Linked DNA regions of Homo sapiens. The protein of the gene in region 1 binds, or shares a complex with, the protein of each later gene. Each region holds a gene or a part of one and is shown in the gene's direction. Other genes may lie near its edges.

Region 1 (7,021 bases):
AAAAGGTGCAAAGAAGACTTTGGTCTGGAGTAGACACTAGAACTTTTCAGAAGTATAGGCAACAGCCAGTAAAAGGGGGGGGGGGGTAGGTTCCTCCTGCTCCAGTCACCTGCAAGTCAGTCCTCTCCCGGGGTTTTCTCAGTATTCGCCATAGGGACTATCAAAGTTTGAAGCATAGCTCTGCCTGTCTGCTGCTTTGTCACTGGCTGGCATGAAGCCATGGCAGAAGCCCATTTGAGACTGGCACCAGCCCTGTTGTGGTTGTCTGCATTCAACTTCTGGCCGGCAGCAGCACAGGGGTCCATCCTCTGGACATCACAGTGCTGGGGACAGGGTCAGCAAAATGAACTTGGGGGTGACAACAAGGACAAACCCAAATTCCTGGAGCTCCCTCTTACAGTAGGAGATAGATCTGTTTGCTAAAAGTACAGGTTGTATGTAACCTTGGTTTTTGTGCCTGTATACTGGTGCCTGAAAAAAACATTAATACTTGGGACATTTTTATTTTGCCAAGGTTCTGGGAGAAGGAAAAGTGAAGGGTTGGGCACCATTTAGCTCCTGGAATTCTGCAAGTCCTTCCGCCTCCTGCGTTTTGGCTGTTGGGCCTTTCCCCCCACTAATTAAAAGTTTTGCTGGGGCGTTGTCATAAATTAAATACTTTAATGAACGTGTAACCGAAGCCCATACTCTGCAGCCAGTCCTCCTGGGACTCTACCAGCTCCCTCAAGTTGGGAAGGCGTTCCTGCTTGCCTGGTGCCGGTCTAATAAGTGGCCCGCAAAGCATGTGATATTTTGCTTTCGATTTACAAAACACCAGATAAATGGTTATTAATAAGGAGATACCCAGCTCTCTGTATTTGTAACAAACGTTAACTGGAATTACCAAGCTCTGTTTTCCTAAAGACTGTAACTTGACTGGGTTTTGGCTTAAAGAATCAAGAATTCTTTTATGAAGTTCATTTTCCAAGGGGCCACCTCTGACCTGTTTTTTTTGTCCTTCCATATTCTTCAAATTTGGAGGTTTTCCTTAAAAGAGAGAGAACAGTGACCTTAGCCCCAGGGATAAAGACCAGCAGGGGTAAATGTTCCCAGAAACCTCCAAAAACCATAGAAAAGAAAGGCCATGTTCCCTTGGGTTTCCTGCAGAGACACTGGGATAAATCTGTTCTCAGGATTTAAGCAGTCATTCTGCCAGGCCAGGGCCTCATTTTCGGTGAGTGGAGTGATATATTTATTCATTAGCAAGTGTTGACATTAGGTAGCAAAATGTGTGTAAACAGAGAAGCCACAAAGACAGGAATGTGCCATTTCCAAGGGGGAGAAAAGTTCTCCAGATCAGCCAATAGGAAGTGATTAACCTGCCAATCGGAAACTAAGACAGCTGGTTACTCACCCAAAACGTTTTGTTGAAAATAGAACAAAAAAAGAAATGAGAAAAGGCGCTGCTGTGTAAGAATTTAGCATCAGTAATAGACAAAGCCCCCACGAAGGGAATTGTCCTGCCACATTGGAGGACAGCCAGGTCTGGAGCTGGAGCACACCCCCCCCGCCCCCCTCACAGGTCTGGGGCTGGTTTTGCCAGCTGCTGTGGCCGGGGGCATTGAGGTCAGACCACAGATGGGCGCTGACCCAGGTCTTCATCCCCATTTTGCGTATGGGAGAATGTTTGGCCCGGGAATCTACATGGACCATTTACATTCTTCAGTTTCTATGTCCCTTAGGTTGAATTTTTGGTCTTGGGTTACTAGATGAAACAGGCACAAAGTTTTACAGTGGACAACTGTTAAAATCTTAACCAGTTGCACAACTAAAGGAATACATCCTGTGAAGTCTCCATCTTAGGAAAAGGTGGTGGGAATGGGGCTGGGGCCTGGTACCCTGCAGCCTTTGGAGACACAGAGGGCTCAAAGCTAGGAACTCCATTTTGCTATAATTTAAGCCACTCCACTCAGCATCTGGGAGGCCTGGACTTTAGACACCTAGGTACTGTGTGGTCCAACCAGGAGAGCCTTCTTTGAAAGAGTGTTCACATGACTGAACCTAGGGGAGGCCAGTTGTGACTTGTGGCTGTCAGAAGTCAGAAAGACACCCCCACCTCCACATCCCACAAGAAGTCAGAATTTGCTGTTTAAAGCTGGATCTCGGGGATAGCTGTGTGGGCTCTGCTTCCCGTGTTTCATTGTATCTGATGGTCTGAAAGGTTTGAGGAATGGCTGGCCTTGGGGGGTTGCTGGGTGAGCTCTTGAGGGACCCAGGTGGCCAGTATCCATGGGCAGATCCAGCCTGCAAATCCAGATCGGAAGTCTGGTGTCTTGACCTGAGATCTGGCACTGCGTTTCTCTCTTAACCGAGGTCCCTCTTAACTTTTCTAGGCCTCTTTTAAAATCAGCATGATGAAAGAGATTAGGTCATTCATTCATTTATTCATTCATTGGTTCAGTCATTCATTTTACAGGCATGATGATGTGCCTACCTAGAAATTTGAGGATTCCGATGCAGTGCTGTGTTCTTTTTTTTTCCGAGACAGTCTCATTCTGTGCCCAGGCTGGAGTGCAGTGGCCCGATCTCGGCTCACTGCAAGCTCCACCTCCTGGGTTCACACCATTGTCCTGCCTCAGCCTCCCGAGCAGCTGGGACTACAGGTGCCCGTCACCATGCCCAGCTAATTTTTTGTATTTTTAGTAGAGACGGGGTTTCACCGAGTTAGCCAGGATGGTCTCGATCTCCTGACCTCGTGTGATCTGCCCACCTCTGCTTCCCAAAGTGCTGGGATTACAGGCGTGAGCCACTGCACCTGGCAGTGCTGTGTTCTTTTATAACCAGGGTTCATTTGAGTTCTGGGTTGGTTGAACTACCTGGGGCAGAGCTGGGACCCTTGGGGTACAGTGGTGAGTAGGGGCTCCTCTGTCTTTAACAGTACTTAGGAAGCTCAGAACGCAGTTGCTGAGACTATCGTGGGACTCCCAGCTCCTTTACCTTGTACTCATTCTCAATAGTTCGCTCCTTGGCTGCTCCCCAGGGTTGGGTTTTCAAAGACTCTGTTGGAGCTGCTCGGAGAAAGGAATGAGTCTTTTTCTCTCGCAGAACCTAGTGCTTACCAAGTGCTTGATAACACTTAGTGTTGCGTGAGTCAGGAGTGGCCTAGAGCTTCTGTCTGCCAGCCAGCCTGGGCTCTGGGGAACAGGCGACACAGGCCTAAGGTGAGACCCTGACTTCAGAGATCTGTCTATGCGGAGCTTTTCTGTGGGTGAGAGATGGAGGTATGGCTCCTTTAACCTTGAGGCCAGTCTGGATGGCCTGGCCACCTCCAGGAAAGAGGGTAGGGACTCCATAGCCTGCCTGGGGAGTGAGAGCCATGGGATAGGGCTGGACTCTTGGGAATAGCCCAGCTCACTGGGTGGCCCTTTGAGCTAGTCAGTGACGCCTCAGTTTACCTGGCTGCCTATGGAACAGGTATACTTTGCTTCTTCACAGGGGTGGTAGGGAGGCTTAATTAACGTTTGTAAATCCCTCTTGAGATCAAAGCCACTGCAGAAGGGCAGAGCACCATTTCACAAAAATGCTTGTGGTTGCCTGTGTGGAGCTGGCTTACCTTTGATCTGAGATGGGCTGACACCCTGAATGTGGTCTCAGCTCTGCTCTGAGATGCCCGGCTTTTCCTTTGAAACACACCTTGCCCCTGGGATTCTGCCAGCCAAAGGTGGCGGGGAGTGGCTGTGGATAAGTCATTATGTTTAATGTGGGGGTGTCTTCCATCTGGGAGGAGTGGGTGGAGGAGAGGGTTGAGAAGCCTATCTCTAGAAAATGATGAAGGCCATCAAAATGGTTTAGAAAGTGCAGGGTATACACCATTTAACAAGTAACTCCATTTCCTGCCTGCCTCTATTGTTTTCTGTTTGATTAAGTGTATCCTGTAAAACTGTATATTCCTGTTAGGAATTAGACTTTACCCTGATAAAATGAGATTACACACACAGTCTTCTTTCCCCCTACCCACCGCAGCCACCTCACCCCCACGCCTGCCTCCACTTCTGCCCCTCGCCCGCTTAGGAGAGTTCTTGAAAAGTTGTCCTTCCAGCCTTGAGAATGTGGGAGAGGGAGTGACCCTGAGTTAGAGAGAGAAACTTAGCATTAAGAGGGCAGACAGCAGAAACCCAGAGATGGTTTGGGGCTATGTGTAGGCCACTAAAGGATTCCCATGGGCTACTTGCCCGTCTGCTCTTTTTTTTTGGCTTTCCTATTTGCCAGCATGGCCAAGTGGTTCCAACTGGAAACCCACAGGGACATTGTCCTGGTGGCCTGGGGTAGGAGGCCTGGTGTCTGCACGATCCAACCTGTTGTGTTTGCTGCGGACCTGGGCAGCACCTTTCCTTAGCCGGGCTCTCCGCTAGGACTTCAGGGAGTTTGGCGCTGCCAGTGGTGCATGACAAGCTTACAGGGTCTTGTGTATTTGTGTTTCATGGGACTAATGAGTTGTGGTTCATGGACATTAGGTTTTGCTTTAATTGCTTGGAGGGCGGTTGTGGAGACTGTTTCTCAGCTGGAATTGTCATTATCCTCATTAACGGTGAGGTCACTGTGCAGAGTACCTGAGGGTGACAGAAGTTGAAGAGAAGTCTAGTTAAGGGCAGATGCAATCTAAAGGTAAAAATCAGTGAGGAAACTCCGAGTGTTGGGTGCCAAATGTTTTATAGGAACTGAGGGCAGAGAGCCTTAGCAGGTCTGGGGTTGCCTGGGAAGGTTTCCAGAGATGAGGGGTTTGGACTAGCCTGGGAGAGGTAGAACATTTCCCCTCCGGCTCGGAGCCTTGCTGAGAATGTTCTCTGTCTTGATCTGGTGGTGGTTACACAGATGTATACATGAGTAACATTCATTGCGTCTACTTGGGATTTTGTATACTTTGCTCTACTTAAGTTAGTCCTCAATTAAAAAAGGGGAAAGAAGTCCCGGCAGCCCAACATCAATCTTGAGAATGTTTTCAAGAACTGGGAAACCTGTCTTTAAAAGGATGAAGGCAGAGAGGACATGGGCTCCAAGGAGAGAGCCTTCTGCCCTTGATGAGGGATGACAGAGCAACCAGGGTTGAGAAAGTCCAACCCAAACCTCCTTTGACCTTGGGAACCACCTGGTATCCGTAATGGGGGACTGGTAATGCAAGAGAAATTCCAGCCAGTCTCATTGAGCCTGACTCGAGTAATGATTAACTGGCTGCCCGGAGCCCAGACGGGTGACAAGGTGCTGTGGTCTGTCTTACGATGGGCAGTGAAGCCTGAGCAGACCATTAATAATCAGCATCAAGGCCGCGAGTCAGCCTTTTGGAATGTGTGGTTTGTCTTTCATGCTGTTTAGAGCGTGCTTAAAGATGGATCTTGGTGTTTTTATTTGTGTATTTATTTCTTTCTCTCCCCTTTTCAAATCCACAGCAGACTGTCCAGATGCTGTGCCTTCCTCCGCTGAAACAGGGGGAACGAATTATCTGGCCCCTGGGGGGCTTTCAGGTAAGATGCTTTCTCTTATTTTCCTGGCAATTCCAACCTTTTTTGAAATTGCTAAAGACTGGAGGAATGGGGGTGGCCTTCTGCCACCCCAGCTGGTCTGGACTTCATTCTCATTTTTATATGCCTTAAGTTGGATGCATCGGTGGTGACATTGTGGTGCCCTTCAGCTCCTCATCCTGCAGTCCTTTACGCTCTGGACACTGGATCCGTTCCGTGGACGGGGAGACAAGAGCGAGCTGGGGATTGCTTTGGTGTGTGAAGTGTTGCCCGGTTATTTTTAAGCAGCTCCTGGCTTGGGGGGCTTCAGCTTGGTGACTTTGGTGTCATTAACTCATGCATTTGAGCTCTTTTTTTGCTTTTGCTCTTTGCGCATGGGGGATGTAAAGGGAATGGACCCACCTTTAGGGAACTTGTTGAAGACAGATCCCAAGCATACGATGGGATTTCAGAGTAGATCTGAGGCTTCCCTCCCAAGTTCTGATTCCCAGCCCAGCCTGCTGCAGGATTTTGCAGCACATGTCTGGGGCTGGGAGCACCAGGGTGGGAGCACTGCCAACAGTAGGAGCTGTAATTGTTCCCTAGCGGGGCAGGTTTTCCTCAGGGCTCACAGGTATGCGTGAAGGCCTGGAATGCCAGTGCTGGGGGGTCACGGGGCTGGCTGACAGGCACGGGGTAGCCAGAGCATTGTTGTTCCTGAGGATGCGAAAAGAGGGCAGTACTTAGAGAAACTCACTGGTTATGTACATGGGACGCATTTCATGTTGTTCTGAAGAAATCCTATTTCTACCTGTTTTTCCATCCCCACCATGTCATCACTAGATTTTCTAAGAACTGGCTGAAGCAAGAGGGAAAACGACCTTAAAAACAGAAATTCCAGCAGAGTTTTGGGCATTTGGCATTTCCTTGCCTGTAGGATCACGTGGTAGCAGCTCGAATAGAAGCTGTGCCCTGTTGTGGTGTATCCTCTTGTGTGAGGGGCACCCTTTTTTGTGGGGTACCTGCTCTGACTACTTGGTGGTGTGTCTTCCATGGCTGGCTCAGGCAAAGTTCATTCCCGGACGGCTCCCTCCCCGGCTCTCCTCTTCAGGAACTGAGCTTGCTGAGAACGTCTTTAGGGAGACCCTTGTTTGTTTTCATTTCAATGCAATATATACTCTGTTATCTGAGACTGAGGGTATTGTTTACTCAAAGCTTCTAATGAGAATTGAGCAGGAAAAAGAGGGACCTAGAGAAGGGAGGGGGCTTCAGGCAGTACGGTGGGAGTGGACAGAGGAGTTGAGGAGGGAGAAAAGGCAGCAGTGTGTGAACTGCATCTTTTCTGCTTTCTAAGGCTGAGAGAGTTCTTGAAAGAAAGAAGGCCAATGAGAGGAAAGGGTCTCAGCAGAATAACACGCTCAGGATGTTGTTAGATGGTTTTATTTTTTAAACCCTGAATGTGCAGGGAGGAGCCCCGGCCCCTCCAAACCACATGAAATAAGCAAGGGAAGTGGCAGCTTTTGAAAGGGTCCTTTCGGAAGGTTTGT
Region 2 (6,824 bases), on another chromosome or scaffold:
ATCCTCCCACCTTGGCCTCCTGAGTAGCTGGGACTACAGACATGCACCACCTCACCCAGATAATTTTTAAATTTTTTGTAGAGATGGGGGTCTCGTTATGTTGCCCAGGCTTTTATCAAAAAAAAAAATTTTTTTTTTTGAGATAGAGTCTTGCTCTTATCGCCCAGGCTGGAGGGCAGCAGTGCAATCTCAGCTCACTGCAACCTCCGCCTCCCGGGTTCAAGAGATTCTCCTGCCTCAGCCTCCCGAGTAGCTGGGATTACAGGCGCCTGCCACTACACCCAGGTTATTTTTGTATTTTTAGTAGAGATGGGGTTTCACCATGTTGGCCAGGATGGTCTCAAACTCCTGACCTCAGGTGATCCACCCGCCTTGGTCTCCCAAAATGCTGGGATTACAGGCGTGAGCCACTGTGCCCGGACTTTTATCAACTTTTAATGGAGTAAGTTGTATGGATAGAGTATACAAGCAGCTCCATAAGTACATTTTTATTGAAAATGGTGCTGGAAAATGCCATTCACGTTCATGCCTTTGTGCAGCTGTTCCTTCTATCTATAATGCCCTTCCTCACCACTTTGCCCAGCAAACTTGAACGTTGGCTTTAAGCTCTAGATTAAGATCATCTGTGACTCGAGATGTCTCCATTTCTCTTCTTATGTAGAATTGTTCTGTCATCTATGTTCTAGCCTGCTATACACATCCCCATCACTGTATCATTGTCAGTTGCTCATGTCTGTTTCATCCAGTTAACTGACCCTCTGGAATGCTGAAGCTGTAATAGATTTATTTTGTATTCCTTGTTCCTAGCCACATAGCAGGTGGCCAATGTTTGCCGAATGAGTAAAACATGAGCTTCCAGGTAGGAAGGTCCCCTTTGTGCAGCTGTGGTGAAAGATACTATTGGGTATATCTAGCAATTTCAAATGGTCCCAGTTTATGACGGTTTGACTTACGATTTTTTGATGTTATGGTAGGAAAGCGACACACATTCAGTAGAAACCACACTTCAAATTTCGAATTTTGATTCAAAATTCTTTATAATAACTTTATCGTAAAATAGGCTTTGTGTTAGATGATTTTGCCCCACCGTATGGTAATGAAAGTGTTCTGTGCACATTTAAGGTAGGCTGGGCTAAGCTATAATGGCTGGTAGCTTAGGTGTAGTAAATGCATTTTCCGTTGTTTTTTTTTTTTTTTTTTTTTTTTTTTTTTTTTTTTTAAGACACAGTCTCGCTCTATTGCCCAGGCTGAAGTGCAGTGGCACAATCTCGCCTCACTGCAACCTCTGCCTCCCGAGTTTAAGTGATTTTTGTGCCTCAGCCTCCCGAGTAGCTGGGACTACAGGTGCACACCACCACACCCAGTTAACTTTTGTATTTTTAGTTGACAGGGTTTCACCATGTTAGCCAGGCTGGTCTCGAACTCCTGCTCGCAGGTAATCCCCCCACCTCAGCCTCCTAAAGTGCTGGGATTACAGGCATGAACCACCATGCCCGGCCTCCGCAAATGCATTTTTGACATATTTTCAACATATTATGGGTTTATCAGAATGTAACCCCATTGTACATCAAGGAGCATCTGTACTTGTTAATGAATGAACAAAATGCCTTTCAGAAACCTCCAGAAGCAACCTCCTGACTCAAAGATTAAGGAAACAGTCAAGCCAACGAAGAACCAGCCGTCGGGGCGGGGAGAAAAACAACAAAATTAAGCAATGAAAGGTTTCCAGGTCAGGAACACCTGGGGATAAGAACAGGAGCCTGCACCCAGGTAAGCAGAGAGTGATGTCTGGTTTTGTTTAGAGAGGAGACTCTTTGAATAGGGGGGAAATACTAACGGGATTGGCAGAAGAATGGGGATTACTTGGGAGCATTAGAGACTGGATGGATTAATTCAGACCCAGGCATTCACTCTCTGTGACAATCATCTACAAATGGAAACAGCTGGATTGTGGCTCTACTGCTATTGCTTAAACATTGCTTATATTCTTGGGTCTTTCTTGAGGATAACTGAAAGAGCCGCAAGGTGCCATAGAAATGACCTAGGACCATCCTTTTATTTGACAGATGTGATGCCTTGAATCCTGCCCAGGAGAGACTCTGCTTTCACTAGGGTCATCCGAGGCAGGCAGGCAGGCAGGCAGGCGGGCAGGCAGGCAGGTATGTCTAGGCGCTCTAGGTAGAAGGCTCTGTTCCGAAGACTGTGACCTTAGGACAGGCACAAGGCTGCAGGGGATGGTAGCAATGGCCCAGAGCCTACTTTCCTTGGGACACACACACACACACACACACACACAGTATTAAAAGAATTTGTTCAAGTTGATTGATGAAGAATCAAATAAAAATAAAAAAGAACTTGTACATGAAAATGGGTAGTGGGGTCTGGGAGCGGTGGCTTAGGCCTGAAATCCCAGCACTTTGGGAGGCTGAAGCGGGCAGATCACCTGAGCTCAGAAGTTTGAGACCAGCCTGGCCAAAACAGCGAAACCCCATCTCTACCAAAAATACAAAAATTAGCTGGGTGTGGTGGCTAACGCCTGTAATCCCAGCTATACAGGAGGCTGAGACACGAGAATCACTTGAACCTGGGAGGTGGAGGTTGCAGTGAGCCAAGACCGTGCCACTGCACTCCAGCCTGGGTGACAGAGTGAGACCCTGTCTCAAAAAACAACAACAACAACAACAAGGTAGTGGGTAAAAAACAAGTTTGATAAACCTAGTTTTCCCTCTTTCTAATAATACCAGTTTATTTCTATAACATGCTAACAGAGAGGAGTTTGTTTGCTGGAGAAAGCGCATAATGAGCTTTTTCTGTGTGTGTGTGTGTGTGTGTGTGTGTGTGTTTTGAGACAGTGTCTAGCTCTGTCACCCAGGCTGTAGTGCAGTGGCCTGATCATAGCTCACTGCAGCCATGAACTCTGGGGCTCAAGTGATCCTCCCACCTCAGCCTCCCAGTACCTGGGACTACAGGCGCGCACCACCATGCCCAGCTAATTTTTGTATTTTTTGTAGAGATGGAGTCTCCCTATGTTGCCCAGGCTGGCCTCAAAGTCCTGGGCTCAAGTGATCCGCCCGCCTCGGCCTCCCAAAGTGCTGGGATTACAGGCTACAGCCACCGTACCCAGCCATGAGCTTTTGGTTCTAACCTGCAACCCCGGGAGAAGGGGAAATTTAGCAGAAGACATGGGAACACAAACCACAATGCCACTTTCTTGTTTGGTAAAATTGTATGCAGAATGGATAATAACAAACATCCGCCTCTCAACTTTATCCCTCCCTCTCATCTCGTTTTCCTTGTCCGTATATGGCACTTCTGCGATTCTGGCAACTTTGTTATGGGTCAGTGGAGCACACCCGTTGCACAGAACACACCTAAGGGCTTTGTCTCTTTGAGAAGTCCCTCCCTTGAACTTGCACGATCGAAAGCTCTTAACTGAAAAAAACTGGTATTGCACGCCTGTGTGCAAGGAGCTTGGTGTGGACACAGCCCACGGTTTCATGCAAACCACTCTTCAGTCACTCAGGAGCCCAGAGCCTCGCAGAGACAGGGGTCAAGACAGAGGGCGACCGCGCGCTGGGTCCCGGGGCCAGCTCTGCTCTCCCTTCCCGGGCTCGGGGCCAGACCCTCCCACCCACCGACCACAGGAAGGGTGAAGACCCCAACCCGCGGGATCCGGGCCCCGCGCGCCCGAGGCAGGCGTGCGGGCGACGTAGCAGCGCACCCCGCCCCGCCCCAGCGTACGTGGCGGGGGCGCGCACGCACGCAGGCGCGGGGGCGCGCAGGGCCGGGCCGGCACGGCGGCGGGCGCGCGCGCGGCTCGGAGAGGCGGCGGCAGCGGCGGAAGCGGCGAGGGCGGCGGGCGTCCGGCTCTGAGGTGGTGGAGGCGGCGGAGGCGGCGGCGGAGGCGGCGGCGGCTCGGGACTGGGCTCGGCTGGAAGCAGCGAGGGTCAGAGCGCCGCAGCAAGCGCCGATCTCCCGGCTCGACCATCCGCCTGCCGCCCGGACGCCTGGGCCGCGGAGTTTGTGTCCCGGCTCGGACCCCGGCGCCCAGCCCGGAGCCGTAACCTTGAGGCGGCGGCGGCGGGGCCGGGCCGGGCCGGGCTGGGGGGCGGTGGCGCTGGATCCGCGGCTGCCCGATCGTTGGCGGGAGATGTCGAACCCCGGGACACGCAGGAACGGCTCCAGCATCAAGATCCGTCTGACAGGTACGGCCGGCGGGAGGCCCACCCGCGCCCCGGCGCCCCCTCGCCCGCCCCGGAATTCCCCGCAGGGCGCCCTTGGAAGCGGCCCTCCCCCACGCCGGCCGTTGTCCCAGGACCTCGTCACCCCCTTCGGCGTGCGCCCCTCGCTTCTCCCTCCTGGCCCCGCCCCCTCGCCGTTGCCCGGCCCCGCCCCCTGGCCGCTCGCGCCCCCTCGGTCTCGCGTTCCCTCCCGTTCCCCCGCACCTGCCCCCTCGCATCTCCGTCCTGGCCCCGCCCCTCTCATTTCCATTCATGGCCACGCCCCTTGCATCTCCTTCCCTGGCCCCGCCCCTCGCTTCTCTTTTCCTGGCCCCGCCCCTTGCATCTCCTTCCAGGCCCTTTCCCCTCACCTCTCCCCGGCTCGGCCCCTTGCCTCTCGCTTCCCTTCCTCTCCCTAGCACCTGACCCCTCGCTTCTCCCCCCAGGCCCCGCCCCCTTGCCTTTCACCTCCATCCCTGTGGTCCTTTCTCTTCCCCACCTTTCCTCCCCAAACCTGACCCCGCCCATCTCTCTGGCCCCACCCCCTCGCTCCTCTCTGCTCCCGCCTCCTAACTTTCTGTCCCCGCCCCCTCGCTTCTCCCTGCGTCCAGCTCCCTCGCTTCTCTCTGGTCCCGCCTCCTCACTTCTTTCCTAGCCTGGGCCCTCACTTCTTCCTGGTCCCGCCTCCTCACTTCTTTCCTAGCATCGGCCCTCACTTCTTCCTGGTCCCGCCCCCTTGCTTCTCTCCTTTTTTTCTCCTCCGCCGTTTTTACCCCCTCCCTCCTTCTCCTCGCTTCCCATCCTCTCCGCCCACCTGCCCCCTCGCTTTTCCCTCCTGGCCTTGCCTCTGTTCCCCTGGTCCCATCCCTCACTTCTCACCACTTTCCCATCATCTCTCTTGCTTTCCTGTTTTCCCTCCCACCTGCTCCCTCCCCTCATCCTCCTGGTCTTTCCCACCACTTCCAAGCTATTTTGCTACCTCCCCTTCCACTTGCCCCCTTGCTTCTCCCCTCCTGCCCCCACCCACCCTCTTCTCACTCCCCCATCCTCTTTCGTTTCTCCCTCACCCCCCCACACCGTCCTCCTCCCTTCTTCCCCTAGCCCCGCCCCTCACTTTCAAGCCCCGCCCTCATTCCTGCCTAGCCCCGCCCCCTCGCTGCTGTCTGGCGAGGCCTCCACCCTTTCTTTCCTTCAGCCTGAAATTCCTCAATCCTATCTTGTAGCTGCTCCCAGTCCTGCTCTCTTCACTTCCCCCTGGTCCAGCCCTCTTCAGTCTCAGTCTGGGCCACTTCCTGTCTCTTAGGCCAGACCGCTAGCTACTTTTAACTCTGCTTCTTCAATTTTTACCTTTTCTGCATTTTGTTTCACCATCACCCCCACACTCAGCAACCCAGAGCGCCGTGAGGCTCTGATCCCTACTCCCACACTCACTGGAGGCTTTGGAAGCTGCCCACACGCAGGCTCCTTGATTCATTTTGTCTTCAATGAAAAGTCCGTGTTTCCTGGGTGGCTCTGTAGTGCCACCTTCAAGGGTGAGCGCAACGCTCTGCCGCGGGCCTGCGACTTGGTGGCGCGGATGTGATGCCAACCTGTTTCCCCCCGGGCTCCAGAGGTTCTGGACCAGGCTGCATCCTCGTCTTCCCTTTCTCACTCTCATTGGTACTACTCTCTTTCCAGTTTCAATTCATCCCTAAAGCAGGATGGCCGTGTTGCAAATGCGGCTCTGCTCCGGGACTTTCCAAACTCGAATATTTCCAGCTCTGGAAGGAAACTAAAAAGTTCATTCTAATCCCCGTCAGGGATTTTCCCCTGGATTTTTCTGTTCAGTGGCTCAGTCGGGTGAGAACTCCAAAGTCCTGGTTTGGTCAGGTCCTTTCAAAGAGAGAATGAGCGTTTTGAACACTTTATGGCAGATGCGCAGCCATAAAGTCATCGGTAAAATCCATGCAAACAATAGGTAATTTTTTTAAACTAAAATTTACTTTGAGAGCCCATAGTTGTTGCATGGCCCAACTTTTGTCTTAAGAGAAGGTTTTGTTTTTTTGTATAAAGATATCAAATAATGATTTGGACCCAAACCCAGACCCTGGTTTTGTAACGTAGGAGGTAGTTTCCTCTGGGATCTTTGCTTCTGGGGAAATACATTTCTTTATGCCAGGGCTGATAGGAAACGCTTCTCACTTTGTAGATACAATGTAGATACATTTTTATTTATGTGGTAAGATAAAAGTAACATTTTTGAGATTGTAATACTTGTAAAGCTTTTAACTTGGTTCTGATTTACAGCTCAGTCTGTAATTGACATCAGATTGGTTTCAGTTATCTTGTTAAAAGCGAAAGCAACTGATTTTGTGTTAGAAATATGATGAATGTTTTAGAAGGAATAGGTTTTAATTGAAATGTTTATGTCTGGTGTATGTATATTAATCAATCCTATTTGCCAAGCCTGAGCCTTGAAAGGGAGGACTTGGTTTCTCCTCCTACCAAATTATTTTTGGATTTAGGAATTTAGATTATCGAAGCAAGAATGCTTTGAGGAATTTTTGGATGACATTTGATAGGGAAGGATCAGGTGATGAGTGTTGTTTCTGAAACACCTTTTCC
Region 3 (7,021 bases), on another chromosome or scaffold:
AGTATTCTGGAACTCCCCAGTAGACCATCTGAGTCCCATGAGACTGCAGGCCCTGTGTTTTCTCCATCTCTCTCTTTAAGTACATTATTGCCTCTGCTTTACATTGTCAGGAACAGTTTTGAGATTTAAATGATATATAACCTGAACTGAATACTGGTTCTCTTTGCTTCCATTTGTTATGCCTTTTTTCCTTGTTAAATGAATGTGTATGCATGCATGTGTGTATACACATGTACATATCATGATGGTCCTCAGAATGTTTCAGTACAGAAGGTAGAATGCTTCTGCTACATTTGTAACTCACAGGTCAAGTCAAATTAATTTTCTTTCTTTTTTTTTTTTTTTTTTTTTTTGGAGACAGGGTCTCCCTCTGTCACCCAGGCTGGAGTGTAGTGGCGTGATCTCAGCTCACTGCAACCTCCCCATCCTGGGCTCAAGAGAGCCTCCCACCTCAGCCTCCTGAGTAGCTGGGACTACAGGTACAAGCCACCACACCCGGCTAGTTTTTGTTTTTTTTTTTTTGTAGAGATGGGGTTTTGCCATGTTGCCCAGGCTATTCTCGAACTTCTGAGCTCAAACAATCTGCCTGCCCCAGCCTTCCGAAGTGCTGGGATTACAGGTGTGAGCCACCACACCCAGCCAGTGATTTATTTCTGATATTATATTTACTACAAGAATTCTTTTCTATGTGTGAAAATTCGTTTTATATAAATGGAGAAACACTGTAGCTCTGTATTGAAATGTTCCAAGGATCATTGTGGTAATTCTGCTTTCCCTAATCTTAAATCCAACCAAAATTATGTTTTCAATAATTCCCATTAATTGTTATTTAGCATTACATGTGTGTATTTGTAGCCTTATTTTCATTCTGTCACCTTTTAAACCTACGGATGGATAGTTTCTTTAGTGTGGATTTTTAAAAATAATCCCTTGTACATCATACTTAGGACTTGACAGTTTCTGTGGAATTTGTATTACTTACTCATAACTAGAGTGAATGTTTATTGGGAACACTTCATCATCAACTACTGGTGGCATCTAAGTACTATAATTATATGTATAGATCAAATAAGTAGTTTATTTTATTTATTTAGTTTTTTAGAGACGGGGTCTCACTCTGTCACCCAGGCTCCATGGAGTGCAGTGGTGTGATCATGGCTCACTGCAGCTTCGAACTCCTAGGTACAAGTGATCCTCCTGCCTCAGCCTCCTAAAGAGCTAGGACTATAGGCACATGCTTCCATGCCTAATTAAAAAAAAAAAAATTTGGCCAGGTGCAGTGGCTCACACCTGTAATCCCAGCACTTTGGGAGACTGAGGTGGGCAGATCACGAGGTCAAGAGATTGAGACCATCCTGGCCAACATGATGAAACCCCGTCTCTACTAAAAACTAAAAAAAAAAGATTAGCTGGGTATGGTGGCGCACACCTGTAGTCCCAGCTATTCGGGAGGCTGAGGCAGGGGAATCACTTGAACCCAGGAGGCAAAGGTTGCACTGAGCCGAGATCGTGCTACTGCACTCCAGCCTGGTGACAGAGTGTGACTCCGTCTCAAAAAAAAAAAAATTTTTTTTTTTTTGGTAGAAACAGGATCTTGTGTTGCCCAGGCTGGTCTCAAACTCCTGGCCTCAAGTGATCCTCCAGCCTCCGCCTCCCTAAGTGCTGGAATTACAGGCGCGAGCCACCATGCCTGGCTCGTAGTCAGTTTTTTTTGTTGTTGTTGTTTTTGAGATGGAATCTCACTCTGTCGCCAGGCTGGAGTGCAGTGGCGCAATCTCGGCTCCCTGCAACCTCTGCCTCCTGGGTTCAAGCGATTCTCCAGCCTCAGTCTCCCGGGTAGCTGGACTACAGGCGCATACAACCACGCCTAGCTAATTTTTGTATTTTTAATAGAGACGGGGTTTCACCATGTTGGCCATGCTGGTCTCAATCTCCTGACCTTGTGATCTGCCCGCCTTAGCCTCCCAAAGTGCTGGGATTACAGTCATGAGCCACCGAACCCAGCCCAGTTTTTTGTTTTTTAACCTTACTACTGTCAGGGTTTGAGCAGAATAAATGGAATGTGACAGTGATCTGCTTTTTCTGAACTTTATTCCATAGTAGAATCTCAAAGTAGTTGAGTTCTGCTCTTATTTGTGTTCTAAATACTTGGTAAAACAAAACAAAAATTTGGATTTTCTTTTTAAAAAACACATACACACACCAAAAACACAAGACACATCAGATGAGTGTTATGTTGGGAAGGCTGCTTATGTGGAGACGTTACTTCTTTTTTTAATCTCTAGAGTAGTTTTTCAAATGTTACATAATGGTAGTAATTTAATTTAGACTCCATCACATAGAATTTTGAAACAGTTTCCTTTAACTAGTTTTAATACTATTCTGCATTTGCTCAAAAATATTATTCAATCTGTTTAATCCATAATATCAAAATATATCATTTAAATAACCTTCCCTAGCCAAGGAATGACAAGAATTAAGACTAGAACTACATCTCTTAAGTCCTAGACTAGTGAATTTCCAAAGTGAGTAACAAATTATCTTTTATACTTTGAAAAATTTGAAGGTTTTAATAAATTCAAGGTGGAAGTACTTTTTATTCCAGGTTTTAAAAACATTGATTTACATTGAAGTCAAGAAGTGGTATGGAACATACCCAAAGAATGCACGTTTGCCCTTGAGTCCATACCTACACCAAATGCCTTGCAATCCTTGCCCACTTATATTTTTATCATGGTATGTTTCAGGGTTTATACAGTGAATGATAATGAAATGAATAATGAAATGTCCTTAATACTACAACAAAATATAGCCTTGTCCAAAATGAAGAGTAAATCAATACTATATTATATGTCTGTATAAACTGGTCGTGATAGGAGTAGACCAGGATAATAGAGATGACGTGGACTTTTTTTTTTTTTCTTTGAGACAGGGTCTCTGTCACCCAGCCTGGGGTGCAGTGGTGCAATCTCAGCTCACTGCAGCCTCAACCTCCAGGGCTCAAGCAATCCTCCCACCTCTGCCTCCCAAGTAGCTGGGACTATAGGCACTTGCCATCAACCTGGCTAATTTTTGTATTTTTTGTAGAGATGGGATTTCGCCTTGTTGCCCAGGCTGGTCACAAACTCCTGAGCACAAGCGAACCACCTGTCTTGGCCCCCCAAAGTGCTGGGATTACAGGTGTGAGCCACCGTCCCCAGCCTCACATGGACATTTTGAAATAAAACCATATTCTTCCTTTTGTTTTATGTTTATTATGGATTACAAATTTATTTGGCAATTAAAAGTAACAGACCACTGGACCGTATCATCTCGTGAGTAGCTGAACTGTTGGATAATACTTTTATACTCTTTGATGCTAAAATATAATAAAATTGCCTAAATTTTGCGTGAGATGTTACTTCAATATAATAGAGTTTTTATATGCTATTTGGGTACGGTAGATTTTTCCAATGTGATCTTATATAACTGTAGTTAGTGCTTTTTTGCCTTTTATTAATTTAAATAATTATTTGCTAAAATGATTAGTTAATGACATATCTTAATAAAAATGTATACATTAACAAAAAAATTCCTTGGTCATATCTTGTTTTCTAGGGAATGGTTGTATCTCTTGTCACATGAAATGTTGAATCCATACTATGGCCTCTTCCAGTATTCAAGAGATGATATTTATACATTGCAGATCAATCCTGATTCTGCAGTTAATCCGGTATGATTTGAAGTTATGATGTGAATTGTGACCAATAATGCTTTTCATGTTTACATGTTAATGTAGTTTATTATATAGAAATTATTTGTCCTTGTCTTAGTTGTGCCCTTTGACTCAGCAATTCCCCTTCTATAAAATTTTCCCAAGCAGATGATTATGGATATATGCACCAATTTGGAAACAGGGATGTTTATTGTTTATAGTAGCACTCAACTGAAAACAACATAGTTGTCTTCAGGAGCGGGGACTGATTAAATTATGACATGAAGCAGAATAATGCAAATGATTAAAGGCATAGGTTCTGGAATTAGAAAGACGTGTCGTGGTCTCATCACTTACTAGCTTTGTGACCTTTCAGGGCAAGTTCATGGACTTAAGCTTCAGTTTTGTCATTGCTAATAAATACATTTGTACCTCAAAGAGGGGTTATGAGAATGAAATGGGACCCTGCACATTAAGCACTTAGCACAGTGCTGTATGTTATTCACTCTACAACTCTATCAACTACATTACTAAGCACTCAACAGAAGTTAGCAGTTATTACTAATGTATTGTTTTTATATTGTCTTTCCATATAAGGGCATACTATACAGCCACTAAAATGATAATGTGGGATAATAGTTAATGATATGGAAAGATGGTGTTTATGATGTGTTAAGTGAAACGAAGGTTATCAAATAGTATAATGCAACTTTGGTAAATATATATGTTTGTGTGCGTGCGCGTGTGTTACTTTTAAAAAAGAAACAAAAACAAGATAAAAGGTTTAAAGACGAGCTTAAAAGATTACTTAGTAAATAGAGAGGTAAAAGAATTTAAAAATACAAACATCTAACAAAACAATCTGTGACGAAAGACCAAATATATATAAAAGGGTAGAAATGTTAGATTTGTTTCAAGAAGTTATTTAGGGAGGATTTTGAGGTGAAGGTTCTTTTTGGAGGGCCCACTACTGCCCCTGTAGTAACAATAGCCCAGACTCATTGACTGCTTATAACATGCCAGGTCCAGTTCCATGGGTTTCAAACATCACCTCATTTTACTCCTCATAGAGATGCTTTTTAGATACTGTTATTATCCTCATATTTCCAGATGTGGACAGTTAGTCTTACGGGGGTTAATTTGTCCATATGCCATTGACTGGCAGAATCGTGATTCTAATTCAAGTCTGACACCAAGTCTGTGCTCTTAAATCTATGGTGTTTTGATGTTTAATTTCTGGTTAGGTCAAGGAAGTAGGGAGGTTTAGGATTGAAAGATTTTTTTTCATGACAAAGGGCTCAGCAGGAGGTGAGAGAAGGAAGAGAAAAGGATCTGCAAGTAGTTGAATGAAGCTCCGGGACCATAGTTTGGACTTAATTTCTAAAAGATAAAATTTACAAAATGACTGGCCCCTGCGAGAAGGGCATATTACCCTGTGTAATATGCTGTTCTCTGGTGATCTAGAGACTCTGGAGCATGCCCTAGAGAAATACTCCCTCCTGACTCTATTGAAGAGTAAAAATTTTATGCTTATTCTCAAAAAGATTAATGTTGCTGAAATATTTCATTTTTATTAAAATTTTCCTGGGTAGTGCCTAACGAGTATATATACTGTTTTCAATTTCAGGAACATTTATCCTATTTCCACTTTGTTGGACGAATAATGGGAATGGCTGTGTTTCATGGACATTATATTGATGGTGGTTTCACATTGCCTTTTTATAAGCAATTGCTTGGGAAGTCAATTACCTTGGATGACATGGAGTTAGTAGATCCGGATCTTCACAACAGTTTAGTGTGGATACTGTATGTATTGAGTCTTCTATCTCTTCATTATAAACTCTGAGCTTTAAAAAAAAATATGTTTCAAAACTGATGTACTTAAAAAAATTACACAGAAAATATTGAGTGGTTATTTGAGTGATAGGATCGCATATGATTTCCCCCTTTCCTGTAGCTTCTTTATACATTTCAAATTCCTTAAACTTAGCAAGTGTTACTACTTTAAAAAGGAAAAAACAACTAGTATATTTCTATTTTTAAAAGTACTTTATATAATTGTTTCCTCAATGTGATACAAATTCTGTTCCAAACCTGCGTGTGTTAGAATAGCAAATTCTTGGCTGCTGTTGCTTTTAATGAAGTGGCGATTGTTGGAACCGTACTTTTAGAATAAGAACTAATTGTTGAATTTAAGCTAAGAACTGATTCTGTTTTGCAAGAGGTCATTATTTTGTGAAGATACACTGGCAATGTTTATTTTTTATAAAGTATACAGTAGCTTTCTCACTAGGGATACACAGGCACTTGGCCCCTTGGAGTACAGTACCGAGTAGGGCTCTTCAGAATGCCAAATGTAACTGAAATTGTCCTATATTGGTGGTTCTAGCAAGGCCCAGCTTTGACCAAGGCTCTTTCTCATTACTCAGGAAGTTAAATGTTTTCTGTGTTTATGAAGGTTAAAGCTCTTTGACTTTTCTGTCCAGAAAGAACTAGGTGGTATGGAAGCAGAATCTGACCTCACATTTGTTATATTATAAAATGATCTTAGTTTTATCTCACCAATTAATACATCTATAGGGTCTGTATTTTAGGTTTCCCAGTTACATATCTTTTCCTCTTTCCTATCCAGTGAGAATGATATTACAGGTGTTTTGGACCATACCTTCTGTGTTGAACATAATGCATATGGTGAAATTATTCAGCATGAACTTAAACCAAATGGCAAAAGTATCCCTGTTAATGAAGAAAATAAAAAAGAATATGTCAGGTAAACACTCCTGTGTTCTCAAGGCTGAATTTTTTAAAATGTTCTAGAATGTTAGTATGAACAAACTTAAATATTTAGATAGTACTACTTAGTGTTACAAAATCCGCTTCAGGAGAATTTAGTGGCTTATTTAGAACAGACATTTTATTATTTCTCACAATTCCATGGGTCAGGAAATTGGGCAAAAGAACAACATGGATGACAACACTGGTGTTCCACAAGATGTCAGCTAGGCCTGCAACACCAAGATGGCCTCTTCACTCATAACTAGGATAACTCAAATGGCTGAGGGCTAGCTGGCATGGCTGTTGACTGGGGTCACTGTCTGGGGCCTTGTTCTCATTGTTGGCTGAGTTCCTTGGTTCTCCCTATGTGATATCAAAGGCCATTCCCTCTCTCCATGACCACTCCCTCTCCCCATAGCCACTCCCTCCCCCCATAGCCACTCTCTCTCCCAACAAGATAGCCAGACTTCTTATGGGGTGGCCAGCTTTCTAAAGCTCAAAAGCAGAAGCTGCTAGATCTTTTTAAGGCCTAAGCCTGGTCCTGGCCAACAT
Region 4 (8,016 bases), on another chromosome or scaffold:
ATGTGATGAGTTACGTGACTAAGTTTAGAATAGCTATATCATGCAAGAAAAGGCTCATTACAGATGCAGGGAAACATGGTTCAGTTAGAGACTATAAATGTGGAAGGACACTAATGCATTCACATGTGAGATTCCTTTCCGTTGGCCCCAGAAACCAAGGTGTTAGCCAGGCTTCTCGGAGGCTGGAAGAGAGCTGACCACTTCTTTCAAGTTCCCAGTGTACTTAGCATGCCAGAATGCCAAGAGAAGGTTCTAAAACATTGGTATGTTTCAAATGTTTACACTTAACAAGTTAATACTTTTAACATGGGATAATTACAAAGAAAAATAATTGTGATATTCACCAGATAATTATAGAATTTACTTAAACTATTTTTTTTTTGAGATGGAGTCTCGCTCTGTCAGCCAGGCTGGAGTTCAGTGGCGCCATCTCGGCTCACTGCAACTTCTGCCTCCCGTGTTCAAGTGATTCTCCTGCCTCAGCCTCCAGAGTAGCTGGGATTACAGGTGTGCGCCACCACACCCTGCTGATTTTTGTATTTTTAATAGAGACAGGGTTTCACCATGTTGGCCAGGCTGGTGTCAAACTCCTGACCTTAGGTGATCCACCCACCTCAGCCTCCCAAAGTGCTGGGATTACAGGTGTGAGCCACAGTACCCGGCCTTTTTTTTTTTTTTTTTTTTTTGAGATGGAGTTTTGCTCTTGTTGCCCAGGCTGGAGTGCAATGGCTCCATCTTGGCTCACTGCAACCTCTGCCTCCCAGGTACAAGTGATTCTCCTGTCTCAGCCTCCCAAGTAGCTTGGATTACAGGCATGTGCCACCACGCCCGTCTAATTTTTTTGTATTTAGTAGAGATAGGGTTTTACCACATTAGTCAGGCTGGTCGCAAACTCCTGACTTCAGGTGATCCACCCCCCTTGGCAACCCAAAGTGGTGGGACCACAGGTGTGCACCACCACACTTGGCCTACTTAAACTATTAATTCATAATGCATTATAGATAGTGTCATTTGGTGATGAGACAAAGTTTAAAGTTCTACAAAGAATGCCTCCTTGTATAGTGTAGGCATATATTTGGGAAGGTAGTGTAACCTTATTTGGACAAAATGTTAAAAGCTTTGATTGAAGCTTCTCATGAATGTGGGGCTAGGCCCTATAAGCTTAGGCGTTGGAATAAAACACAGATAACTGGATTAAAACAGTATAACAGATTCGGTTCATTAAAATCCATGAGAGAACGGGATTGAAGATTTAGATAATTGTGAGAAATTTATTTATTATTATTATTGTTTTTTGAGATGGAGTTTCGCTCTTTCGCCCAGGCTGGAGTGCAATGGCACAATCTCGGCTCACTGTGACCTCCGCCTCCTGGATACAAGTGATTCTCCTGCCTCAGCCTACCAAATAGCTGGGATTACAGGCATGTGCCACCATGCCCGGCTAATTTTTGTATTTTTAGTAGAGACAGGGTTTTGCCACGTTGGTCTTGAACTCCTGACCTCAGATGATCCACCCACCTCATCCTCCCAAAGTGCTGGGATTATAGGCATAAGCCATCATGCCTGGCATGGGAAGTTTAAACAATGAATTACGATTTCCAAACTGAATGGCAAGGATGTTATCTTAGTCTGTTTGTGCTGCTATAAAAAATACCACATACTGGATAATTTATAAATACTAGAATTTTATTTCTCACAGTTCCGGAGGTTGGGAAGTCCAAGATCAAGGCAGCAACAGGTTTGCTGTCTCATGACAGCTGCTTTCTACTTCCAAGATGGTGCCTTGTTGCTGCATCCTCTTAAAGGGATGAAGGCTGTGTCCTCACACAGCAGACAGATGAAAGGGCAAAACAGCTGAATGCTGTGTGAAGCCTCTTGTATAAAGTTCTTAATCCCATTTAGGAGGGAGGAACCTTCGTGACCTAATCACCTCCTTAAAGGCCCCACCTCTTTAATACTGATGCACTGGAGACGTTTCAACATGAATTTTGGAGAGACAGAAACACCCAAACCATAACAGAAATGAAAAGGGAAGGGAGTGATAGGTTGCAGAAAAGGGAGAGGTTAAGGATAAATGAGATGTGAGTAATGAAATAAGAGAACCAGATGATTATTAAGAATATGGTATACCATAGTCTGACTTCACTACTGGAGTATTTCTGGATGATGCAGAGTACAGACGAAGGGGCAGGTGGCTAAAGTGAAGTAGAGATGAGGGTCCATTTTAGTTGACAGGTCAACTAATTGGGATACGCATGTTTTGAGATAGTGATCTACCTGGACATTGAAAATGATCCAGGATAAGGGTGCATCTTTATACGAAGAAGGTGACTCCCTATTTTAAGATGCTGCCAACAGATAATTGGTCCACAAAATGGGCAGAAGAGGAAGGGAGTAGACAAAGGACTGAATATGTTATCTTTATCCCCTACTACACCGTGGTTGAAATTGTATAAACGAGGAATAGTAAATTACAAAATCTTGGTTGATGATACAGAAGTGCTTACAGAACATAGTCACTCCAAAGACCCTTTCACTCCACTTATCAAAGTAATTTTGTCCTCAGTTTAATGGCAGGTGAAACAATATTGAACAAAGCAGCCTCTGCTGTATCTGAAGCCCTTTAGTTAGTGTTCATAGCAGTAAATGCTCTAGTAAAGGGACAGCTTCTATTCCAATCCCAGGTTTTCAATCACTTTGGTTCTTTTTTTGAGACAGAGTCTCGCTGTGTTGCCCAGGCTGGAGTGCAGTGGTGTGATCTCAGCTCACTGCAACCTCCACCTCCTGGGTTCAAGTGATTCTCATGCCTCAGCCACCTGAGTAGCTGGGACTACAGGAACATGCCACCACACCTGGCTAATTTTTATGTATTTTTTTTTTTGTAGAGACAGGGTATCACCATTTTGGCCAGACTGGTCTCGAACTTCTGACCTCAGGTGATTCCCCTGCCTTGGCCTCCCAAAGTGCTGGGACTACAGGCATGAACCACCGCACCCGGCCCACTTTGGTTCCTAAAGTTTTCTTTCAGGTAAAGTTTTTAATGCATAGTTTCTGCCCAAAGGTTTTGTTTGTGTGGACTGATTATTGGATAAGAGAGGAAGGGACTACCAACAGGGTCCCTGAGGCTGTGCTTAGAAAGAGAGGGCTGCTGCAAGGAGAGGCTATGTTACTACCTGTGAAATAATCTGTGAACATGGGACAACAATGACAACTGACATTGATGTGGAACTCACTGCACGTCCCAAACTGGGCTAAGTACTTTATATCCATTGACTCATTTAATGCCCCAACAACTATGAGGTAGGTGTTATTACCCCTGATGCTAATATTAAAGAACAGGAAATAAATAACTTGTCCAAAACCTCACAGCTAGTAAATGGCAGAACTGGGACCTGAACTCAAAACTCTGTAACTCCAGAACCTGCAAGTCTGTCGTTAAATGCACTTGACATTTAGGAGTGGGAACAAATCCAAGAACTAGTCATGGGTGTCATTTACTCTGATCCTTTTTTTCAGACAGGAAACTGGGGGTTCAGAGTAGTTGATTGGAATCTTCTGTTAGAATTTTGAGTGTCTGAGGCCTGCTCCTTTGGCCGAGCCCTACCACACCAAGTGATACAGATCCTTCAGAATTCTCCTGGGCATGTTCTGGCTGAAGGAAGAAATTACCTTTTTGCTCACGGACTTTTTCCTTGCTTAATCCTACTTATACCTTTGTTTCACTAGCATTGTAGACAAAATCATTAAAACAAGAAAGCCAGATTTCCTTAGAATGGGCTTGTGCATTTAAAATTAGACTGATGTTGCACAATCCTATGAATATATTTAAAAAAACAGTGAATTGCTTAAATATACTAATATGTACAACTATTGCAAAAACTGTATGGTATATAAATTATATCTCAACAAGGATGCTTTAAAAAAAAAAAACCCAGAGTGTATGACTTAAAAAACATTTCTATTGTTTTTGAGTGGCTTCCAGAAGGGCTCCTTGTACATCAGGTGCCTGGGATGACCTCCTTGCCCATTCATTTCTTATTCAGTCCACATTAACGGAGTCCACCGTTGGGCCAGGCACAGGGATAGCAGGGGTAGGGACCCAGCTCCTTGAGGATGAAAGACAGGTACAGAGGCATGAATGCTTGTACCTGAAGACGCACTAATTTTTTGGGTTGCGGCTTCCAGTGACTATTGCAAATTCGAGTACTAAAAAAGTTGATGTGATTTCACTATTTGGAAAATGTAGTGTTTTTGTTTCTTTTAATAAGTTACACTGAGTTACAGACCTGGTCTCAAAGCTTCAATTACAGTAACCGTTTACCCCTCTCAAGTGAGTTTTTGCAGACTAACAGATAAGTGAAACAATTACAAAATAAAGTTAATGCTGAAAACAATGGATCTTTATTAACATCAATGCCGGCTCACGGTATCTATTTTAACTCCAATCTATCCTCGCGGCTTTAAGCTCGCACAGGCGCTCCGCTCGGTCAAGCCGGGGTAACGCGAGGAGGAGGAGGTGGGTTCGCACATCCTCTCTCCACTTCTTTCGGCCTTGGCCCTTTCGCAGGTCCAGGCGAACTGGAAGCGCCTTTCCCGAGCACGGGCGGGGAAAAGGGGCCGAGCGGAGCGGAAGAACTTCCTGCAGCCAAGGGCGCCCGCGTTCTCCGCAGACACCACAGTTCGGACCCGGATTGGACCCATCGTTTGCGGTTCGCGGGGCAGAATACGGGGCACGCTTCGGGCCCCTGCCCGGCTGAGCGCGGGCGAAGGGCGGACCGGGCCAGGGCGAGCGGGTCACGTGCGGCCGGGAGAGGCGCCGCGGGCCGGGAGTGTGCAGGAATGTAGCAACTTGCAGCGAAAAGTTTCCCTGCGCTGCCGGCCGGGCCGCGGTGCGGGCGGGCGCGCAGAGGAAGGAAGAGCCGAGAGGAGGCGGGGCCGCGGCGGCGCGGGCGGGCGCTTCTCCTAACTTTAGTTTTGGCGTTTGAGGCGAGTTTCTGTCTCAGTCGGGCGCAGCCGCCGCCAGGGAAAAGAAAGGGAGGAAGGAAGGAACAAGAAAAGGAAATAAAGAGAAAGGGGAGGCGGGGAAAGGCAACGAGCTGTCCGGCCTCCGTCAAGGGAGTTGGAGGGAAAAAGTTCTCAGGCGCCGCAGGTCCGAGTGCCTCGCAGCCCCTCCCGAGGCGCAGCCGCCAGACCAGTGGAGCCGGGGCGCAGGGCGGGGGCGGAGGCGCCGGGGCGGGGGATGCGGGGCCGCGGCGCAGCCCCCCGGCCCTGAGAGCGAGGACAGCGCCGCCCGGCCCGCAGCCGTCGCCGCTTCTCCACCTCGGCCCGTGGAGCCGGGGCGTCCGGGCGTAGCCCTCGCTCGCCTGGGTCAGGGGGTGCGCGTCGGGGGAGGCAGAAGCCATGGATCCCGGGCAGCAGCCGCCGCCTCAACCGGCCCCCCAGGGCCAAGGGCAGCCGCCTTCGCAGCCCCCGCAGGGGCAGGGCCCGCCGTCCGGACCCGGGCAACCGGCACCCGCGGCGACCCAGGCGGCGCCGCAGGCACCCCCCGCCGGGCATCAGATCGTGCACGTCCGCGGGGACTCGGAGACCGACCTGGAGGCGCTCTTCAACGCCGTCATGAACCCCAAGACGGCCAACGTGCCCCAGACCGTGCCCATGAGGCTCCGGAAGCTGCCCGACTCCTTCTTCAAGCCGCCGGAGCCCAAATCCCACTCCCGACAGGTAACCTCGTTGCCCCTCTCCCCGTTTCCCCGTCGGGCGGGCCTCAGACCGGGGGGGCGCTCGGGAGCCGCGGCCGCCAGCTCTGGTCAGGGGAGGGGGGTTGCGGGAACTCTAGCTGGGGTGGGGGTCCCGAGGCGAAGTGGAACTGGAGTCGTCCACTCCGCCGCGGTGACCAGCTCCCCACTCCTCCCAGAGTCCGGGGCTGAGATTTGTTTTTCCCTTCTGAGTTTCTCTCTGCGGTTGCAGCCCCGGGGGGCGTGCTTTCCCTCCTTCTTCCTTTCTTTCTTCCCGGGGTTCCCGAGAGGTTGGCGGGAGTGGAGGAGGGGTGGGGAGGAAGGAAGGGGGTGGGGAAAAGTCGGGCCTGGGCCGCGGTGGGCTTGCACAATGCGCGCGCCTCCGCGCGCTCCGCACCTTCGCTCCCGCCGGGCCGGGCTGGGAAAGGGGGAGGGGGGCCTCTGGCATTTGTGTGTGGGTGTGTTGCCAGCGGCGGCCGAGTTTGTGAAGTTGAGCCCTGGGCCCCTTTCCTTTGCGGCCTCTCGGTCCACTTCAGTCTCCTGGGGGAGTCAAATAATTGTTCTCTTGTTTTCCAGTGTTGATTAGAGGTGGGGGTAGAACCGGTCCATTTAGTTTTTTGCTCTTTCTTTCCTTCCCCCCTCCCGTTTCCCCTCCCCCTCCCGTAAGCATTTATTTTCCTCGCGGCTCAGGCGATTTCGGAATACAGGTTTCGGGCTTCCCCTGCCCAGACTTTCCTGGAAGTTGTTTATGGAGTTCTTTCACCCCTGCTCTTCCCTTGTGTGTTGGAACTTGGGCCGGCTTGCTCTTATCAAACTTAGTAGGTCGCGTGTTGGTTTCCCAGTTGTAGACTATTATTTACAGTCGGCTGAAACGCTTTTGAATTAGCCACATCTGTACGTTGCGCAGGAACTGAGTTGCGCTTTACAGTACCGAGGTTTTAACACAAGCCTTTGATAATACACTGCAGGTTGACTCATAGGCCAAGTCCTGCCTAGTTCAACTGTGATTAAAAGTTAATGTTTGGGAAGCGATGACTAATTCTAGGATCGCCATTGCTTTTTAATTCTTATTGCGGATATGAACATGGCTGCTATTCCACATACACAATGTTCGATTATTGTGCCAACTTGATTCAGCATAGAAGTGAAACTGTTTATAATGAGTGTTAACATTCCAATAGGTCCCAGTGGATTTGTTTTGTGTAGGGTTCTCTCTTTTTCTTTCTTTTTTATTTCTTCTTCTTTTTTTTTTTTTTTTTTTTTGAGAACTTGCTTCAGGCTAAACTTCAGCATAGGAACTTTGCCCAAAAGTTAATAGGTTTTCCAAATACTGCAATGTAGTTAGCCCACTCGGGATGTAACTTGAGTGGAAAGAAGAGTTACCGCCCCCACTCCCATTCCCTCTCCTATTTGCAGGCCTGTTGTATAGTCTCCTGTCGGAGACCAAAGGGTTTTGGAACTCAGAAAAAATCACTTAACCTGATGACAAAAACCCGGGTTAAGGAGGAGGAAAGAAGGAAAAACAATTTAGCTGCTTGCCTAAACACTTCAATTTGTCTTAGGTATGCTTTTTTCTCTTACCCCTCGAAGTGGGTTTATGGACTCATTGTGGGTAAATGTATGTTGGCATGCACCCTACAGACTGCACGGTATGTTTTCAAAGTATAATACACATAGATTGGATCCCCCATTTTGTGGCATCAGCCACAAAGAATTACAACTGGGAAGTGTACTTTTTCTTCTAGTAAATAATTTTTACAAGAATTTATATCCAGCAGTTCTAAAATTCATAAACTATTATAGTTTTGTTTGTTTTAAATAAGTTTTTAACTAAGTGTTTTGCATCTGTAAATTCGACTTTTATTTCTCCTAATGATTTCCTAAATCATACTTATTCTGATGGGAAACTCAAAAAGGTGTATCACTTTAAGGCATTAATGACTCTACTGAGTCCTTCCAGTTTCCTTACCTTTGTGAATCTAGGAAATTCTAACTTTTTGATAATCAAACTCTAATGCTAATTAAAAATATTTTAAAAACTATGCAAGATTATGAATAGTACAAATCTAGGTTGTAAATACTATTGTTCACAACACAAACTGGTGACTGTAAGTTCTTTCATATACATCCATTTTTCTATCATGAAAACTATTTTATAAAGGAGAAAACAGGCATATGGAAGTTAAGATACTTGTTCAGTGTCACACTAGCCAACTTAGACTGGAACTCAGATCTTTGGGGTCTGAATGCAGAATTTTTTCTGCTTGTATAGAGTTGTGGA

The links.
Region 2: the proteins of SMAD7 (region 1) and SMURF1 are in contact, whole or in part, in an NMR structure (PDB 2LTX), measured with the Homo sapiens proteins. Residues at the interface, in NP_005895.1 of Homo sapiens: Glu203, Glu205, Ser206, Pro207, Pro208, Pro209, Pro210, Tyr211, Ser212, Arg213, Tyr214, Pro215, Asp217; in NP_065162.1 of Homo sapiens: Glu313, Arg315, Ser316, Thr317, Arg321, Tyr323, Val325, Asp326, His327, Arg330, Thr331, Thr332, Phe334, Thr335.
Region 3: the proteins of SMAD7 (region 1) and SMURF2 are in contact, whole or in part, in an NMR structure (PDB 2LTZ), measured with the Homo sapiens proteins. Residues at the interface, in NP_005895.1 of Homo sapiens: Glu203, Leu204, Glu205, Ser206, Pro207, Pro208, Pro209, Tyr211, Ser212, Arg213, Tyr214, Pro215, Met216, Asp217; in NP_073576.1 of Homo sapiens: Glu304, Arg306, Asn307, Thr308, Ala309, Thr310, Arg312, Tyr314, Val316, Asp317, His318, Arg321, Thr322, Thr323, Gln324, Phe325, Thr326.
Region 4: the proteins of SMAD7 (region 1) and YAP1 are in contact, whole or in part, in an NMR structure (PDB 2LTV), measured with the Homo sapiens proteins. Residues at the interface, in NP_005895.1 of Homo sapiens: Ser206, Pro207, Pro208, Pro209, Pro210, Tyr211, Tyr214, Pro215, Met216, Asp217; in NP_001123617.1 of Homo sapiens: Thr241, Gln242, Asp243, Tyr247, Ile249, Asn250, His251, Lys254, Thr255, Thr256, Ser257, Trp258.

What each region holds. Positions count from the first base shown.
Region 1 is NC_000018.10:48,940,958-48,947,978, reverse strand, and holds part of SMAD7 (mothers against decapentaplegic homolog 7), read left to right. Parts: intron 1-5,171; exon of another isoform or gene 5,172-5,320; coding exon of another isoform or gene 5,321-5,423; coding exon 5,424-5,498; intron 5,499-7,021. UniProt on the Homo sapiens protein: Antagonist of signaling by TGF-beta (transforming growth factor) type 1 receptor superfamily members; has been shown to inhibit TGF-beta (Transforming growth factor) and activin signaling by associating with their receptors thus preventing SMAD2 access.
Region 2 is NC_000007.14:99,141,107-99,147,930, reverse strand, and holds the start of SMURF1 (E3 ubiquitin-protein ligase SMURF1), read left to right. Parts: upstream 1-3,822; 5' UTR 3,823-4,150; coding exon 4,151-4,205; intron 4,206-6,824. UniProt on the Homo sapiens protein: E3 ubiquitin-protein ligase that acts as a negative regulator of BMP signaling pathway. Mediates ubiquitination and degradation of SMAD1 and SMAD5, 2 receptor-regulated SMADs specific for the BMP pathway.
Region 3 is NC_000017.11:64,554,299-64,561,319, reverse strand, and holds part of SMURF2 (E3 ubiquitin-protein ligase SMURF2), read left to right. Parts: intron 1-3,597; coding exon 3,598-3,712; intron 3,713-5,321; coding exon 5,322-5,500; intron 5,501-6,326; coding exon 6,327-6,464; intron 6,465-7,021. UniProt on the Homo sapiens protein: E3 ubiquitin-protein ligase which accepts ubiquitin from an E2 ubiquitin-conjugating enzyme in the form of a thioester and then directly transfers the ubiquitin to targeted substrates.
Region 4 is NC_000011.10:102,105,449-102,113,464, forward strand, and holds the start of YAP1 (transcriptional coactivator YAP1), read left to right. Parts: upstream 1-4,998; 5' UTR 4,999-5,400; coding exon 5,401-5,721; intron 5,722-6,100; exon of another isoform or gene 6,101-6,323; intron 6,324-6,999; exon of another isoform or gene 7,000-7,297; intron 7,298-8,016. UniProt on the Homo sapiens protein: Transcriptional regulator with dual roles as a coactivator and corepressor. Critical downstream regulatory target in the Hippo signaling pathway, crucial for organ size control and tumor suppression by restricting proliferation and promoting apoptosis.